Regions from separate parts of the Homo sapiens genome. Here region 2 is linked to region 1. The links come from fine-mapping of genetic effects on gene expression. A gene starts in region 1. The other region holds a variant in brackets. All regions are shown on one strand. Distances are from middle to middle.

Region 1 (4,521 bases):
TGGAAGACAGTGTGCGGATTCCTCAAGGATCTAGAACCAGAAATATCATTTGACCCAGCAATCTCATTACTGGGTATATACCCAAAGAAATATAAGCCAGTCTACTATAAAGACACATGCACACGTATGTTTACTGGAGCACTAGTTACAATGTCAAAGACATGGTACCAACCCAAATGCCCATCAGTGATAGACTGGATAAAGAAAATGTGGTACATATACACCATGTAATACTATGCAGCCATAAAAAGGAATGAGATCATGTCCTTTGGAGGGACATGGATGAAGCTGGAAGCCATCATCCTCAGCAAACTAACACAGGAACAGAAAACCAAACACTGCATGTTGTCATTCATAAGTGGGAGTTGAACAATGAGAACACATGGACGCAGGGAGGGGAACACCACACACTGGGGCCTGTCGCAAAGTCTGGGGCAGGGGGAGGGAGAGCATTAGGACAAATAACTAATGCATTCAGGGCTTAAAATCTAGGTGATGGGTTGATAGGTGCAGCAAACCACCATGGCACATGTATACTTATGTAACAAACCTGCATGTTCTGTACATGTATTCCGGAATTTAAAGTAAAAAAAAAAAAAAGGACATTCTGACACATGCTACAATATGGATTAGGTATCTAAAACAGTCAAATTTCATAGAGAGAAAATGTAGAATGGTAGTTGCCAGGGGCTGGAAGAGGGGAATGAGGAGTTACTATTTAATGGGAACAGAGTTTCAATTTTCAAAAATAAGAAAGTAGTGGCGATGGATGGTGATGATGGTTGAAAAACAAGGTAAATGTACTTAAGACCAATAAGCTGAATATTTAAACATAAAAGGATCCTGATTCATAGAAATCAGTAAACAAAACATGAAAACTTAGTTTACCTATATAAAAATAATACTAATTATGGTTGCTTACACAAATAGCTTATATTTCCATAACGTGGTATAGAAACTATTTTGCATATAATTATGTCAGATTAACTTTGTTATAAGTTAGATTTGGTTATAAAATTAAACTAGAATCAGGCTCCACTTTATCAGCTGTTGTGCATGTGGCACAGATTGCCTACTCACAATTTTAAAAGGAAACATTGGAGAGACAATTTCTTAGGAGCTAGAAAGGTGCCTTTTGTTTTATGTTAAAATTATTTCCGGCCGGGCGCGGTGGCTCACGCCTGTAATCCCAGCACTTTGGGAGGCCGAGGCGGGCGGATCACGAGGTCAGGAGATCGAGACCATCCCGGCTAAAACGGTGAAACCCCGTCTCTACTAAAAATACAAAAAATTAGCCGGGCGTAGTGGCGGGCGCCTGTAGTCCCGGCTACTTGGGAGGCTGAGGCAGGAGAATGGCGTGAACCCGGGAGGCGGAGCTTGCAGTGAGCCGAGATCCCGCCACTGCACTCCAGCCTGGGCGACAGAGCGAGACTCCGTCTCAAAAAAAAAAAAAAAAAAATTATTATTTCCCAGGTTGGAAATGTGTGCGTTTATGGAATAAATTGGTAGGTGAGAGGCTGTGAGGCAAACTGGAAGGTGGTTAGGCTTCAAAAGACAGAAGAACTTGGGCTAGAATCCCAGTACTTTTACCACTTGCAAGCTAGCAAGTCCTTTAAACCCTGGCCTTCACGAACTTCATTTTTAAAGTGAATAAAAGTACCTTTTTGAGAGGCTTCTACAAGGATTTGGGACAATGCAAACAAAAGTGCTCAAGCTGCACTAGATCCTAAATAAATGGTGCTATTTATGGTGAGTCGGTGTTACACAACTAGTGGCTATGGCACCCAGAGCTTCCAATGCCAAATCATCAAACTGGCATGAGATTCCCGAGTTCAGGGGACAATTGCTTACTTTGTTGGAGGAGGACTAGATGTGAACAAGGCTGATAAATGTTGACATTCCCAAAGTGCCGGGACGCCAGACGTGAGGTTACAGCATGTCCTTCCTTTGCTAGTACAACGAAGCATGACTTGTGAATGTCACTTTTTTGGCTTTTCAGGAAGCCAGTGCAGTAACAAAGTGGCTTAATGATCCAAAACTAACATACACAAGGTAAGAATCAGTTCAATAATAACATCGTTTCCTTCCTTACTGTTGACTTCCTTGTTTTTTCTTTCTTTGCTCAGTGAATATCAACACAAAGACTAATAAATCTTCTGACACTTTTTTTGTCTTCCAAGAATATATTTTCTTGTCTGGCTAAGGGCCATCACCTTCCCTGACTCCTTTGGGAATAATGGGTGCATTTCTTACAGTCACATCACCCGATTTTCAGGCCAAAGTTTTCACGCGTTGGGTGGAAGGCAGTGTGGCATGGTGGAAAAGGTAGAGGGCGAAGACTCAGGCCACCTGGTCCCCGTCATCATTTCTGCATCTATCTGTCTATATGAAGTGGGCTGATGGCTGTGCCAGTTTCCTCATTTGCACAGCGCACGAGGTCCCGCTTTCGGTGAGCTTTTATCGCATACATGGTAAGCGGTGATCGGTAGGACCCCGGAGCCCTCTTGGGCGTTCGGCTTGGGCTGCACTTGCACTGTGTGGCCAACTGCGACCGTGGCGCCGTGACGGGAACGGCGGGTTGCGCGCGCAGCACCTCCGTCGCCTCCCGATCCAGCGTCTCCGTTGCCAGGAAAACAGAGCGGCGCGCTTTCCGGCGCAGTCGCGGCGCGTCGCAGCTGTCATGGCGGAGACCGTCTGGAGCACTGACACCGGGGAGGCAGTGTATCGCTCCCGGGACCCCGTGCGCAACTTGCGCCTCCGGTAGTCGCACCGCCCCAGCCCCGAGGCCCCATGCTTTTGTGTCCTTAGATCATTCCAACCTGAGCTCGGTGTTCTGAGGTCCCCACTTTCTGCTTACAATCCCGACCACTTCTCCGGGCTCCCCACTTCTTTCACTATCCGTACCCCCATCCACTCACAGCCTCTAAGAACCCCTTACAGACCTACCCAAGTCCATTCACGTCTTTGTTGCTCCCAGTTTCTCAAAGCCCTGTGCCCCCAGTACACCCTCTCCCCTTCATTCTTCCCCATAGGACGGCGCACCCACCCACCTCCTCTCCGTTGTCTGCACCCAGCACACCTTGGCAACCCTACCTCCTCTGTTTTGTTTCCCCCATCCTTGCTTTGTGTTCATCTCCTGGTTGCGTGTCTGGTAACGAATATTTTGGGCTTTTCTTGACAGAGTCCACCTGCAAAGAATCACATCAAGCAACTTTCTTCATTATCAGCCTGCTGCCGAGCTCGGGAAGGACCTCATAGACTTGGCCACTTTTAGGCCTCAGCCAACTGCCAGTGGGTGTTACGGTGGTGATGTGCCATCTAATACTAATTATGATACTAATCAGAATTGTGGCCAAATGTAGTGAGATAACAAATACTATACTTCTGATATGTTATAGAGTTGCCCGGCAACCTACATTCTATTTGTGGCTTTTTTTTTTTTTTTTTTTTTTTTTTTTTTTTTGAGACGGAGTCTTGCTCTTTCCCCCAGGCTGAAGTGCAGTGTCGCTATCTCCGCTCACTGCAAGCTCCGCCTCCCGGGTTCACGCGATTCTCCTGCCTCAGCCTCCCGAGTAGCTGGGACTACAGGCGCCCGCCACCACGCCCGGCTAATTTTTTGTATTTTCAGTAGAGGCGGGGTTTCACCGTGTTAGCCAGGATTGTCTCGATCTCCTGACCTCGTGATCCGCCCGCCTTGGCCTCCCAAAGTGCTGGGATTACAGGCGTGAGCCACCGCGCCCGTCCTATTTGTGGCATTTTTAAAAGAGAAAACGTGCCCCAAACCCTAAATACACATATAAACACTTTTAAAAACAATTTTTAAACTGGAGACTGCTTGCAAAATCTGCATATGATGTGCATGTATAGATCAACTGTGTTCTTGTGGTTTTCCTTATCTGGGAAACCAAAAGAATGAGGAGGAGAGGACAGAGTGGTTGTTGTCAGGTCACTAGTCTGTTTGCTTTTATTGTTTCTCTTTCTGTTCAGAGCTGTTCCTGGGCAAGAGTGTGGGCTCACAGGTTGTGAAACGTGTCTCTGAAAAAGGCATACCCAAGAGTGTATTAGATTAGATTTGTTTTCTTTGTTTTTGTTTTCGTTTTGTTTTGAGACAGAATCTCATTCTTCTGCTCAGGCTGGAGTGCAGTGGTATGATCATAGCTCACTGTAAACCTTGGTCTCCCAGGCTCAAGCCATCCTCCTGCCTCAGCCTCCCAACTAGCTGGGACTACAGACTCACACTCAGTTTATTTTTTTTTAAAGTTTTAGTAGAGAAAAGGTCTTGCTATGTTGTCCAGGCTGGTTTCAAATTCCTGGGCCCAAGTGATCCTCCCACCTTAGCCTCCCAAAATGTTGGGATTACAGGCGTGAGTCACTGCATTCAGCCAGATTTGGTTCTGTTAAAAAATCATTTATTTGCCTTCACTGTCCTCTCCTTACACTTGGTCTCCTAAATTTCAGTGTTTGTGATTCTACATATATGGCTTTAGAAATAGTAAAGATAAAAATGCCAGGGTTATTTTC
Region 2 (4,000 bases), 23 kb after region 1:
GAGGGAGGGTTGGGCAGAGACTGTCCTTACGAACAGACCTACTACAGGCAGGGAAAGAAAGTTAATTCCATCATTTGCTTGGTTTTAACTAAACCCTTTTGCACAAGGTCTTAGTTCAGTTGACCTCTCCCGAAGGCACAAGCTGCTCTTTCCAGGACACACAAATGTACAATCCTTCAAAAGAGGGGTTGGGGCCGACTCTCTGTGAGGAAAACAGTGGAATACAGTGGACTGGGCAGAGACCTTGATACTACACTGACTGTGTTCTCAAGTGGACTCTGTCATTTGAAACTAACTCTGTGCTCTTGGGCGCATGATTCACTTTCCCTGAGTCTCAGTTTCTTATCGTAAAATGAGAACAATAATAATTCCCTCCTTTCAGGGCTGTTGCAAGGTTTAGAGATGGCACATTTAAATATCTTGATAAGGTTGGGCGTGGTGGCTCACACCTGTAATCCCAACACTTTGGGAGGCCAAGGCAGGTGAATCACCTGAGGTCAGGAGTTCGAGACCAGCCTGGCCAACATGGTGAAACTCTATCTCCACTAAATATACAAAAATTAGCCAAACGTGGTGGCAGGCACCTGTAATTCCAGCTACTCGGGAGGCTGAGGCAGGGGAATCACTTGAACCCAGGAGGCAGAGGTGGCAGTGAGCTGAGATCACGCCACTGCACTCCAGCCTGGGCGACAGAGTGAGACTCCATCTTAAAATAATAATAATAATAAGATAAATATCTTAATGAGAAATGACTACCATTATTATTGTAACCATGTACATGGGACAAAAGACCCTGAGGAAAGTTCAAATTATGCTTCCAGAAGAGGGTATTAACTGTCTAGCAACAGCTGGGGACAGGGAGGAACTACGGAAATTTATCCCAGAGAAGAGAAAAAAAATGGAGATGGAGTTAACAGCTACTTTGAGGTATTCCTGCGTGTAAGAGGGACAGTGTCTTTTCTGAGGTTCCAGAAGCATGATTAAGGGGAATAGGTGAATATGTGATCAAAATAAGGAGACTTTCTAACAGTCGGAGCTGCCTGTGGCTGAGCTGGGGTGCCATAGAGGCGGTGAGAGCCTTGTCACTGGAGACGGTTAAGCAGTTATCTCTGGCCACACACAGGGAGCTTGCAAAGGGACTCAACGTTCTGATTCTATGATGGCTGTGCACAGATCCATGCTTATGGTGTGCCTAATACTGAGGTCCCAAACCATGTACCTTCACCACATCCCACCATTGCTTCCCAGTTGGGACCCCAGGGATGGCTGTTTCCTGGGAAGACACCACCTTCCTCCCTGTCTGACCTGCCAGGAAGCAGGGGATGCGCGCCGAGCGGTTGGTGAGGAGACAGGGGTCATCGTGCAGGTTGTCGAAGGGCAGCAGGGCCCGGCCGTTGTCTTGAAAGCGCTGGTTGATGGCCAGCAGCCCCAGGTAGTTGGTCCGGTTGCGGAGCCGCAGCGAGAGGGAGACCTCACTGCCATACACCATGCTGGCGTCCACAAAGGAGGTGAGCGCGTTGATCTGGTTGCGGACTCTGTTCTTGTTTTGGGGGCATGAGGGTGCCGAGCGGAAGAAAGGGATGCAGTCACGCTGGTTCTTGATGCGGGGGTCATTGGGTGGGATCTGAGATGGAAGAGGAGACAGTGACATGGGGCCCCCTCAATAGCAGACTCACTCCTCTCCGTCATCTTCCACCTCCTCAAAACCTTGCTTAAAACTCCCTTCCTCCAGGAAGCCCTCCTTGACTCACCCAGGCTCATGCTGCTCACCCCGTCAGTCTGAGTGTCCT[T/C]AACATTTTGTTTCATAGAGTCTCAAAAGGTTAGGAATGAATGAGGCTTTTGAAACAATCTCGATCCTCATTTTACAGCAAGGAAAACAGCCTCAGAGAGGGGAAGTGACAACCAGTTAGCAGGAAAGGTGGGATTAGAACTTAGTTCTCTTGACTCTTAGGCCTGAGCTTCTTTAATTCTGTTCAATTCGACAGACCTTTTCTAAGCCCCTTTCTTGCTTGCTGCTTTGGAGATTATGAAGGTTAAAAAAACACAGGAAAGGTTGCAGGAAGCTGGCAGTTCAGTGGAAAAAGACACACACACATAGAGTTAAGAAACTAAGTTGAAGTGGCATCTGCTGTGCTTGATAGAAAAGCCATATGTGGGCCAGGTGTGGTGGCTCACGCCTATAATCCTAGCACTTTGGGAGGCCGAGGCAGGTGGATTACATGAGGCCAGAAGTTTGAGATCAGCCTTGTCAACATGGTGAAACCCAATCTCTACTAAAAATACAAAAATTAGCCAGGCTTGTTGGCACATGCCTGTAATCCCAGCTACTCGGGAGGCTGAGGCATGAGAACTGCTTGAACCCAGGAGGCAGAGGTTGCAGTGAGCTGAGATTGCCCCTCTGTACTCCAGTCTGGACAACAGAGTGAGATTCTGTCTCAAAACAATAATAATAATAATAAAGAAGAAAGAAAGAAGGAAAGATAAAGAAAGAAAGGACGGAAGAAAGAAAAAGAAAGAAAAAGAAAGAAAGAAAGGAAGGAAGGAAATGAAGGAAGGAAGGGAAGGAAGGAAGGAAAGGAAAGAAAGAAGAAAGAAAGAAAGAGGAAGGAAGAAGGAAGGAAGGAGAGAGAGGAGAGGGGAGGGGAGGACATATGTTAAAAGTGTAATAGGAAGATCTGAGAAGGCTCCCCAGAGGAGGTGCCCCTAAGCCAGGGATTGAGGAATAGATAAGGTTGCAACAGGGAGAGGCCATCCAGAGGCCCTCACATGTCATCCCTCATGAATGTGGCCCCACCTATTAAGGGTGACTGTGTGTGTACATGTGTGTGTGAGAGGGAGCGTGTGTGTGCACGTGTGTGTGTGTGAGAGAGTGTGTGTGTGCACGTGTGTCAACCCTATGTTCCTAGCAGAGACTCTGCTCCCTGGATTCTATCTTTCCTCCCCTAGTGCCCCACACTGTCCTTGGCTTCTAGCCTGAAGGTTAGGACCCTACTTACAGCCCAAGCCCAAGAAGCTGGCAAGAGCCGCAGGACCCTTGGACTACTCTGGGAAGGAGAGAAGGGCAAGAGCTAAGAGGCCCTTAGGTTGCCAAAAGCAGGGGCCCAGAGGCTTCCCCTGTTGGATTCAGACCCATGGGTCAAGGCATGTGTCAAGGGCTTCCCACTCCATGAAGCCTGACCTGAGCCTCCTGGCAGATTGCCCTACCCCCACCTCTCAAACACACACGGCGCGGGGTCTCTGCTCAGCTGTGTTTCTTGTGTCTCTGTCTCATACCCTAGCTCCACAGGCAGCTCCTTAAGGATGGTGCTCCAGTCTTCCAGATCCCCACCCCCAGCACCTTGCCTTTGGGGGAGGCCACACAAGGGCATGGGAGATTGGCTGAGGGTAGGTACCTTGATGGGAAAGCAGGGGGGCAGCTGGGCGCAGGTCCTCTCACAGTCAACGCCTGCAGTGAAGGCCACTCTGGCCGGGGACTCCGGGGAGAAGTCCAGGTCATGGTCAATGAACTGGCCCCACTGCATGAACATGAGGGCTCGGCCACGGTCGGAGGTCAGTCTCTCATTGGGGAAGCGCACAATCTGGTTGGAGACAGCCCGGACCTGGTGGGGAAATAACATCAGCACGGGACATGGGCTCCCTGACCCCACAAGGTATTAGAGCCAACCCAGGACTCAGGGAGCAGCAGCTCCCCTGCTGGAATTGACAGCCTCTCCTCTTCTGCCCTCCATGCCCCTTTTGTCCCTGGAGGCGTAGCCACCTCCTGCTCTCATTCCTAGAAGGATGGTTTCTGGCTGGGCTCCTGAGGATTCCGGTGGTAAAGAGAAGGAGAGGGGCTAGGTTGACTGGCTCAGACCTCACCAGCTCTCCCAGAGGGGAAGGGAGATCAAATAGATAGATCAATTTGTACACTGATAGCTAACCAGATGATAGCACGGATTCACAGGTGCATGGGCTGGTTGCCAGGTGATGGATAATACACGTAGGGAGTACGGGGTCAGCA

Alleles and levels. Alleles are on the strand shown, and positions count from the first base shown. SD is a standard deviation of normalised expression in the study named.
In carriers of allele C in region 2, the expression in aorta of the gene that starts at base 2,656 in region 1 tends to be lower than with T alone (small effect, 0.20 SD a copy in GTEx).

The links. PIP is the estimated chance that this variant, and not a neighbour inherited with it, causes the effect. A credible set is the group of variants that fine-mapping cannot tell apart.
Region 2: its variant is the best candidate, but not a certain one, in a credible set for the expression of MKS1 in aorta (GTEx, PIP 0.77).

Annotation. Positions count from the first base shown.
Region 1 is chr17:58,217,390-58,221,910 of GRCh38, reverse strand. MKS1 (MKS transition zone complex subunit 1) reads left to right here and starts at 2,656. Exons shown (of 18, transcript NM_017777.4): 1 at 2,656-2,760; 2 at 3,182-3,291. The coding sequence starts at 2,681. It overlaps LOC105371841 (a long non-coding RNA gene), which reads right to left and starts at 2,597. Exons shown (of 2, transcript XR_934884.4): 1 at 1,852-2,597. RefSeq lists an enhancer at 2,549-2,828.
Region 2 is chr17:58,194,563-58,198,562 of GRCh38, reverse strand. EPX (eosinophil peroxidase) reads right to left here. Exons shown (of 13, transcript NM_000502.6): 6 at 3,393-3,599; 7 at 1,306-1,624. Among named protein-coding and RNA genes, the nearest start is that of EPX, 3.8 kb to the right of the region's middle. The variant T/C (reference allele first, on the strand shown) is at 1,791.